2 separate regions of the Homo sapiens genome follow, and region 1 is linked to region 2. Evidence: fine-mapped expression QTL. A gene starts in region 2. The other region holds a variant in brackets. All regions are shown on one strand. Distances are from middle to middle.

Region 1 (4,000 bases), 28 kb after region 2:
GGGGATTCTTGCGGGGGGCGGGGGTGAGAGGGGTGGGGGGAGGGCGGGAAGGGGTCTCTTCCCAAGGAGAATTCCAGAATGGTAGAATGGAATGTTGTGGATGAAGAAAGAACACGGTTCACGATGAGCTATTTAAAATATTCCTAGGGAAGAGGGTGTCCCTGAATGTTCTAGGGGCAGTTGTGTCAAATAGGATATTCTAGAACCAGTGCTTCTCTCAAACTGTGAGGAAGGATTAATTTTTGAAACTTCTAAGGCTGGGCGCGGTGGCTCACACCTGTAATCCCAGCACGTTGGGAGGCCGAGGCGGGCGGATCACGAGGTCAGGAGATCGAGACCATCCTGGCTAACACGGTGAAACCCCGTCTCTTCTAAAAGTACATAAAATTAGCCGGGCGTGGTGACAGGCACCTGTAGTCCCAGCTACCCGGGAGGCTGAGGCAGGAGAATGGCGTGAACCCAGGAGGCAGAGCTTGCAGTGAGCCGAGATCGCCCCACTGCACTCCAGCCAGCGCGACAGAGTTAGACTCTGTCTCAAAAAAACAAAAAACTGCTAGTCCATTGCAGACAATGCTTTTGTAAAATTCAACGGAAATGAATTATTAGAAAAGTAAAATAAGATCTAAAACCAAGACAGACAAAAGTCAAACCTGGCCAGGAACGGTGGCTCACGCCTGTAATCCCAGCACTTTGGGAGGCCGAGGTGGGTGGATCACCTGAGGTCAGGAGTTCGAGACCAGCCTGGCCAACATAGTGAAACCTCGTCTCTAATAAAAATACAAAAATTAGCCAGGCGTGGTAGTGGGTGCCTGTAGTCCCAGCTACTTGGGAGGCTGAGGCAGGAGAATCGCTTGAACCCGGGAGGCGGAGGTTACAGTGAGCCATGATTACGCCACAAATAGAACTGATTCCTAGCCTGGGTGACAGAGCGAGACTCTGCCTAAAAAAAAGCCAAACTCACATTTTTATTTATTAGATTCAACAGACGAAAAAGAATTCTGTCAAATCACTCTAAATGCTCACTCTCTCCATTCCTGTACACATCTCACTGCAATCACCGTTTGTTGAGGGACTGGTGGTTTGCAGAGCATACTTTGAGACTAAAGTGATTAACTAGCTGGGTGTCATGACCTATTAGAGGCTTGAGAAATCAGTTTGATGGGTTGCAATAAGCATTTTTTAATGGAATGGAGTAGAATAGAATAGTTGCCTGCATCTTATGTATAAGTTTGGTTTTACAAAACTTGTTTTAGTTGTCTGGGCGCGGTGGCTTATGCCTGTAATCCCAGCACTTTGGGAGGCCAAGGCGGGCGGATCACCTGAGGTTGGTAGTTCGAGACCAGCCTGACCAACATGGAGAAACCCCATCTCTACTAAAAATACAAAACTGGCTGGGCATGGTGGTATGTGCCTGTAATCCCAGCTACTCGGGAGGCTGAGGCAGGAGAATCAGTTGAACCTGGGAGGCGGAGGTTGCAGTGAGCTGACAGTGTGCCATTGCACTCCAGCCTGGGCAACAAGAGCAAGACTCCGTTTAAAAAAAAAAAAGTGAACTATTTCTGAACGGATTGGTAAATAGCAACAGCTCCCAGCTCCTGCCATGCCAGCCTCTACTCCCAGGACCTCCCGCGATTCAGTAAGTGAAGACTTAACACCTGGCACATCAGGGGCCTCAGGGAGGCTTCTCGTGAACTTTTGGATCACGTGTCTGCAACCGTGTGTGCTGGGTGGGAGTGGAAAAGCATTCCCTAATGTAGTGAGCGAGTGTTGAGAAATATTGAACACTCCTGGGACTGGGGTGTCTGCCAGATAGC[G/A]GGTGTGTCTCAGAATGGGTGATTTATGTTAGGGATGTCCCTGCGGAGGGTGCCCTAATCACTCCCCATTCTGCCCCAGTTCCAGAGGCCCCAGGAGCAGTACCCGCCCCTGAAGTTTGGGACCGTGCCCAACGGCTCCACGGAGAAGAACATCCGCAGCAACTATCCCGACATGCACAGCTACATGGTGCGCTACAACCAGCCCCGCGTAGAGGAAGCGCTCACTCAGCTCAAGGCAGGGTCAGCGCAGACTCGGGCCGGGGGTGGGGGTTGGGCCGCTGGGGACCTGAGGATGCTCAAAGATGGCAAGGGGTCCAGGTTCATTCATTCAGTCCCAGAGGTCAGCCCTGGGTGGGTCAGCTTGGAGGGCGGAGGTCACTGAGGGTGGAAGTGGACTCCTCCTCCCAGGAGCAGGCTCCTTGGGATATTTTCTGGGATGCAGTATTTCTGGATTCTGGGGTGAGACTGATGGGGCTCAAATCTTTGCTCTTCCCCTTCTTGGCTTTGTGACCTTGGGCAAGTTACTCAGCCTCTCTGAACCTCTGTTTCCTCCTCTGTAAAATGAGGATAACAAGAGTATCCCCACTGTAATGATCATAAGGTTGTTACAAGAATTATACTAGTAAGCCGGGCACGGTGGCTCATGCCTGTAATCCCAGCACTTTCAGAGGCCAAGGCAGGCGGATCACAAGGTCAGGAGATCGAGACCATCCTGGCCAACATGGTGAAACCTGGTCTCTACAAAAAATACAAAAATTAGCTGGGCGTGGTGGCACGCGCCTGTAGTCCCAGATACTTGGGAGGCTGAGGCAGGAGAATCGCTTGAACCTGGGAGTCGGAGGTTGCAGTGAGCCGAGATCATGCCACTGCACTCCAGCCTGGCGACAGAGCGAGACTCCGTCTCAAAAAAAAAAAAAAGAATTAAACTAGTTAGTCCACTCAGAACATTTATTTATTTATTTAGAACAGTGCCCGGTGCACTATAGGTGTTTGCTGATATTATCATTATCATTAGACCTGAACTCACTGGAATCAATGCTTAGATTGTGTTTCTTATCTTTTTACATCCCTTTCCCAAATCATAGGGATGAAGTTAAATTCAGAGGCCAGGCGCAGTAGCTCACGCCTATAATCCCAGCACTTTGTGAGGCGGAGACGGGCAGATCACTTCAGGTCAGGAGTTGGAGACCACCTGGCCAACATAGTGAAACCCCATCTCTACTTAAAATACAAAAATTAGGCTGGGTGCGGCAACAGGCTCTTGGGAGGCCGAGACGGGCAGATCATTTGAGGTCAGGAGTTTGAGAACAGCCTGGCCAACATGATGAAACCTTGTCTCTACTTAAAATACAAAAATTAGCCGGGCGTGGTGGCGGGCGCCTGTAATCTCAGCTGCTTGGGAGGCTGAGGCAGGAGGATCGCTTGAATGCAGGAGGCGGAGGTTGCAGTGAGCCGAGACTGTGCCATTGCACTCCAGCCTGGGCAACAGAGACAGACTCCGTCTCAAAAAGAAAACAATACAAAAAAAGTTGAGTTCAGGCCCCAAAGTGCAGCCCACGAATACAACAAGGCTGAGCACAGTAACTCTCTCCCCGTCCTGCATTTACTCAGTCCTTCCGTGTGCATTTTTCTTATCCTCTGCTGTACGCTAAGCGGTGAACAAATAGACCCGATTCCTAGGTCTAGAGGTGGGAAATGAACAATAAACATGCAAACAGAAAAATCAAGATCTCTTCAGAAAGTGATGGTGAGCTAGAGGGCGGCAGGGCTGGGATATTTTCACCAGGGTGTTCAGGGTGGGCTTCTCGGAGGAGGTGACATTTGTGCAGAGCCCTGCAGGAGGTGAAAGAGCTAGCCAGGTGGACTTCCGGAAGCAGAGCCTTCAGACGGAGGGAACAGAGTGTGCAAAGGGCCTGAGGAAGGTGCAGTGTTGGTTTACTGGAGGAACAGCAAGAAGGCCAGTGTGGTTGAAGGGCAAGGAGCTGAGGTGAGAGAGTAGATGAGGGGAGGATTCTGGGCATGAGGCCAAGGTCAGGGCTGGACTTTATGCTAAAGGCGGTGAGAAGCCTTGAGGTGTGGAGATTTTACGTAAGGAAGGGTATGATCTGATTTCTGTTTTTGTTTGTTTTGAGACAGGATCTCACTCTGTTGCCCAGGCTGGAGTGCAGTAGTTCGATCTCAGCTCA
Region 2 (4,507 bases):
AAACCCTTCCTGAGTCCTGCGACGTCCCCCAACCCCCGCCCGCAATCTCTCTCCTTCGCCAGCCCTGGTGGGCCTCTCACCGGCGCACGAGCGGGACTTCCAGATTTTGAGCAGTAGCAAGATGATGGCGAGGAGGTGGGAGAGGTCTCCCAGGAATCGGAAGAGATTCATGGCTGGGGAACCCTGGCAGGGCTGAGCGGGAGGGAGGCAGGCTGGCGGGGGGGTGCCCCCCGAGGCTGCTGGTCTGAACGGGTAGCTGGGCTGGGGGGACGGAAGAGGGACCCTAGGTGCGCTCCGCTCCGGGGAGGGGACTTTGGGAGGGGGAGCAAAGGCTGGAGCTGGCGGCGGAGCTGGAGCCGGGAAGAGGGAGGAGAGCGAGAGGGGGAGGAGTCCGGGAGGAGAGGCTCCGCCCCCGAGGGCGGGGCCTGGATCCCCGGCGCCCCCTATCGCCCACCTCCTGCTTTGCCGTGGCGGCGCTAAACGCACCCCCAAAGCTGCCCCATAGGAACTTGGGAGGGTCGCAGGGTTCGGAAAGTGCCAAATCCAGCACCGGTTCGCCCAGGCAGTCTGTGTCTCTGGAAGAGACGCAGTCCAGTACACCAGCCTCAGCCCTTGCAGGGATGTAGAGACTGCCCTCTGAGCTTGAAAAATCCTGCAGGGACCCGGAGGCTCAGCTGCTAGCTTTTGCAGCTTTCAGGCACTCTAACTCCAATCCCCCAGAAGACAAGAAAGATACCCCACCTACTTCCTCCCCTAGACCCAGGACTCAAGGCCCCAGCCCGTTCGTCAAACCCAGAAGTCTGGGTCCCCAGCCCCTCCTCCCTCAGACCCAGGAGTCCAGACCCCCAGCCTCTCCTCCCTCAGACCCAGAAGTCCAGACCCCCAGCCCCTCCTCCCTCAGATCCAGGAGTCCAGGCCCAGCTCCTCCTCGCTCAGACCCAGGAGTCCAGGCCCCCAGCCTCCTCCCTCAGACCCAGGAGTCCAGGCCCCCAGCCTCCTCCCTCAGACCCAGGACTCCAGGCCCCCAGACCCTCCTCCCCCAGATCCAGGAGTCCAGGCCCCCAGCCCTTCCTCCCTCAGACCCAGGAGTCCAGACCCCCAGCACCTCCTCCCTCAGACCCAGGAGTCCAGATCCCCAGCCCCTCCTCCCTCAGACCCAGGGGTCCAGGGCCCCAGCCCCTCCTCCCTCAGACCCAGGGGTCCAGGGCCCCAGCCCCTCCTCCCTCAGACCCAGGGGTCCAGGGCCCCAGCCCCTCCTCCCTCAGACCCAGGAGTTCAGGGCCCCAGCCCTTTTCCCTCCTAGGACGCTGTTCCTTGGAACTTAGGGTCCCACCCCCACCATCTTATGGATCAAACATCCTAACCTTAAGAATCTAGATCTACAGTTTCTCCCTTTACGACCCACAGATTTAGGCCCTGATTCTCTTCTTTTTCAGGAATGTGCACCTCACCCTGTTCTCCCAGACCTTGAGGATGAAGGAAACAGGAGCCTCACCCAGGAGGCTCAAGGCCAAAACTCTGACCCAAACTACCTCAGGAGCCCCTGGCCCTGGCTTCCCCCCTGCTCCAGAGTTTCTGCCCTGCCCACACACACACACCCTCTTCCACCCTCAGAGGCCCCGGTGTCCTGCCCCACGCTCTACCCCAGAGCCCCACGGGTGGCTTTATAAAAGTGCCGGGCCCAGCCCTCTAGCAGGAGGGGAATGCTGGGCATCTGGGTGTGGGACCCCCGGGGAACAGCCTGTGGTCTGGACTCCTGCATCTATGAGGGGACAGACGTGGCTTCCCTTCCGGATGATGGGGTACCCACAGATGATGGAGGCCAGGGTCCCTCAATAAAAGAAGGGGTGCAGGCGTGTTGATTTCTTCAGAGGGCTGGAAGGACGGGGTGCCCAAGGGTGACATCCACGAGTCTTGGGTCCCTGAGGGTGGCTTGTACGGGGGAGAGTCGGGATGACTGAGTCCTTAAAAGAGACTCCGACTTGGAGGCGGTCCCCAAATTCCTGGGTCCCAGTAGAGAAGGGGACTCCTGGGTCTGAGGGAGGAGGGGCTGGGGGGTGGGACTCCTGGGACCAGGGTCGAGACCTGGTTTTCAGGCCTGGCCTTCTGGGGCAATAAAAGCCACAGCTTGGGTCTTAGTGTGGCGAACACTGAAGTCAGGGAAAGGCCTCCTGTTTCCAGAGCCTCAAGGCAGGGCGGGGGCAGAGGGCAGCAACCCCCAGCCCTGGAGTCTAGCTCTGAAGCTGGTGTCTCCATACCGGGTTCTGAGTCCCTGCCTGCCTGTCCCCAGCCTGACTTCTTCCTCCCTTTTTATTTTCAGCCCCTCACTCCCTTGTCCCAGGAGGAAGGCAGAGGCTGGTAGCTAGGGGTGGGGGGCGGCCCCCTCCCCAAGCCTGGCAGGAGAAGGGGTCCCCAGGGAGGCCAGGAGGGGGGGCTGTGGGTCTCCCGGCAGTGGCAGACGGGGACTGAATGTTAATCGCATCCCGAGTGAGTGTGTGTGTGCGAGAACACAGCGAGTGTGTGAGTCCCTCCCGCTCCAGCTCCTCCAAGCCGCGGCCGCCGCCGCCACCCTCGCCCGCAGCCTCCCGCAGCCTCCCTCGGCCACCGGTGCCTGCTGGGGGTGTTGCCTGGGTAGGTCGGCCCGGCCCCCAGGGGTCTCTCGAGCGTCTGCCATCTGCCCGGTGAGGATCTGTGTGTCCGGGTGTCTGGGGCTGGCTGGTGGAGGGGGGGTGTGTCTGTAAGCGCTGCGGCGGCGGAGGGAGGGAGGGGTCTGTCTGTCTGTACCGACCCTGAGCTGCCTGCCTGGGTGTCGTGGGGCTCCCGCTCCTTCCCCCCGGCCCCCCCAAACCCAGATGGATGGTGTGTACCTGGGTTCTGTGCCTCCTGCCTGCGTCCGGCCAGGCGTCTGGGCGTCCCCGGCTGCCTGTGTCCTCCTGTCTGTCCAAACAGCCCCTATCAGCAGTGGCAGCCTGGCCCCCATTAGACCCCCCACTCTGTGTGTGTGTGTCTGTGTGTGTGTCCCTCCTCAAGCTCTGGGGGTGTTGAGGGGGAATCCCAGGGAAGTGAGATCGTGCGTGTGTGCGTGAGTGTATGTGTGTTTCTGCCTGTGTTTGAGAGTGGGGGAGTCAAGGGGGGGTCTAGAGGTGGCCAAGCGAGGAAGGGGCAAGCAGTTCCCCAAGCAGGCAATCTCCCGCTCCTCACACGCACACACCAGCCACTAGCTTCAGAGGTGACCCAGACAGACAGATAGACACAGACGCTGGAAGGGGGGGTGGGGGGGCTGAGGGCACAAAGCGGGGGTGCGAGTGAGCCAGGGAGAGGCGGGACTGGACACATGGAAAGGGGGGAGGAGCCGGGGCTGAAGCGGCAGAGGGGGGCACCCCGGGTGGGCGGAGGGGGGATCCCCACGGGGTCGGGGCGGCAAGAGGACACCCCGACAGCCTCTGCAATGTCCGGGGCCCAACTTCCAGAGCAACATGTGTAGCCACGTCCTCGCCTAGTCCAGGTGGCCGCAACCTTGGGGGAGAGACAGGGCAGGACAGGACCAAGGAAGAGGAAGGAGAGACGGAGCCAGGGACAGACAGGAGGTCCGGGCTGCCGCTGCTGCCGCCACCACCACTGCCGCCGCCCCGGGGCCTGCCCCCCGACATCGGCTCTCTGAGCCCTCCTCGGAATCTTGGGGTCGCTGGACGCCGGGTTCCGGTCCTGGCCCCCCCGCCATCCCCCCAACAGAACAGGGTCATGAAAAGGTAAGGCGGGGACAGGGGATGCAGGGATGGTGGTGGGAATGTGGACCCCCAAATCTAGGACAGAGGAAGTTGGCAAGAAGCCTCGTGGAGGGAGGGGGTTTGAACGGTGGGCAGGGGTCTTGACCCCCACCTAGCTCCCCTGTCCCTCAGGGACTCTCCTCCACCCTCTCTCTCTCCCTCTCTGAGCCCCTTTTTCCTGAGTCCCTACACCTCAGACCTTTCACGCCCCCATTTCTCTGACACTTGGCTCCCTCTCCCCATCCCCACATACCTGATGCCCCATATCCCTGTGCCTCCATCTCTCTATCTCACCTTCTCCCTGTACCCCCCTCCCTGCATCAGTCCCCCCATCGCGAGCCGGTCCTCTCCCTCTCTCCTCTCGCTCTCCCCTCCCATGTCAGAGCTATGAGTCTGCTATTAATACCCCCGCCAAGGACCTTGAGGGCATCCAGGCCCCCAGCACCCCTCGCCCCAAGCTCCCACCCCTTCCTCAAGGTTCTGGAACACCCTTCCAGCCTCTTCCAAGCATCAGGATTCGGGTGGGGAGAGACCGATGTTGTGTGTGTGTGTTGGGAGGTGAGGGGGGAGGAAACGGGATGCCGTCTGCAGCACAACTCGAGGTTGTGGGGGGAGCTGTTGATCGAAGTGGCCGCTCCTCTCTTCTCTGTTGGATGCTGTGGGGGGCAATGAAGACAGGGACACCCTAGGAATTTCTGGCACCCTCCTCCTCCTCCCCGCTTGGGGACAGGCTGTGCTAT

Which allele goes with the higher level. Positions count from the first base shown, and alleles are read on the strand shown. Sizes are in standard deviations (SD) of each study's normalised expression.
As copies of A replace G in region 1, the expression in subcutaneous fat of the gene that starts at base 2,481 in region 2 goes down (moderate effect, 0.53 SD a copy in FUSION).

What was found. PIP is the estimated chance that this variant, and not a neighbour inherited with it, causes the effect. A credible set is the group of variants that fine-mapping cannot tell apart.
Region 1: its variant is the best candidate, but not a certain one, in a credible set for the expression of GRIN2D in subcutaneous fat (FUSION, PIP 0.88).

The regions. Positions count from the first base shown.
Region 1 is chr19:48,419,892-48,423,891 of GRCh38, forward strand. It overlaps GRIN2D (glutamate ionotropic receptor NMDA type subunit 2D), which reads left to right. Exons shown (of 14, transcript NM_000836.4): 11 at 1,894-2,054. Among named protein-coding and RNA genes, the nearest start is that of GRWD1, 24 kb to the right of the region's middle. The variant G/A (reference allele first, on the strand shown) is at 1,815.
Region 2 is chr19:48,391,188-48,395,694 of GRCh38, forward strand. It overlaps GRIN2D (glutamate ionotropic receptor NMDA type subunit 2D), which reads left to right and starts at 2,481. Exons shown (of 14, transcript NM_000836.4): 1 at 2,481-2,681; 2 at 3,471-3,749. It overlaps KDELR1 (KDEL endoplasmic reticulum protein retention receptor 1), which reads right to left and starts at 364. Exons shown (of 5, transcript NM_006801.3): 1 at 81-364. The coding sequence starts at 171. RefSeq lists a silencer at 201-520.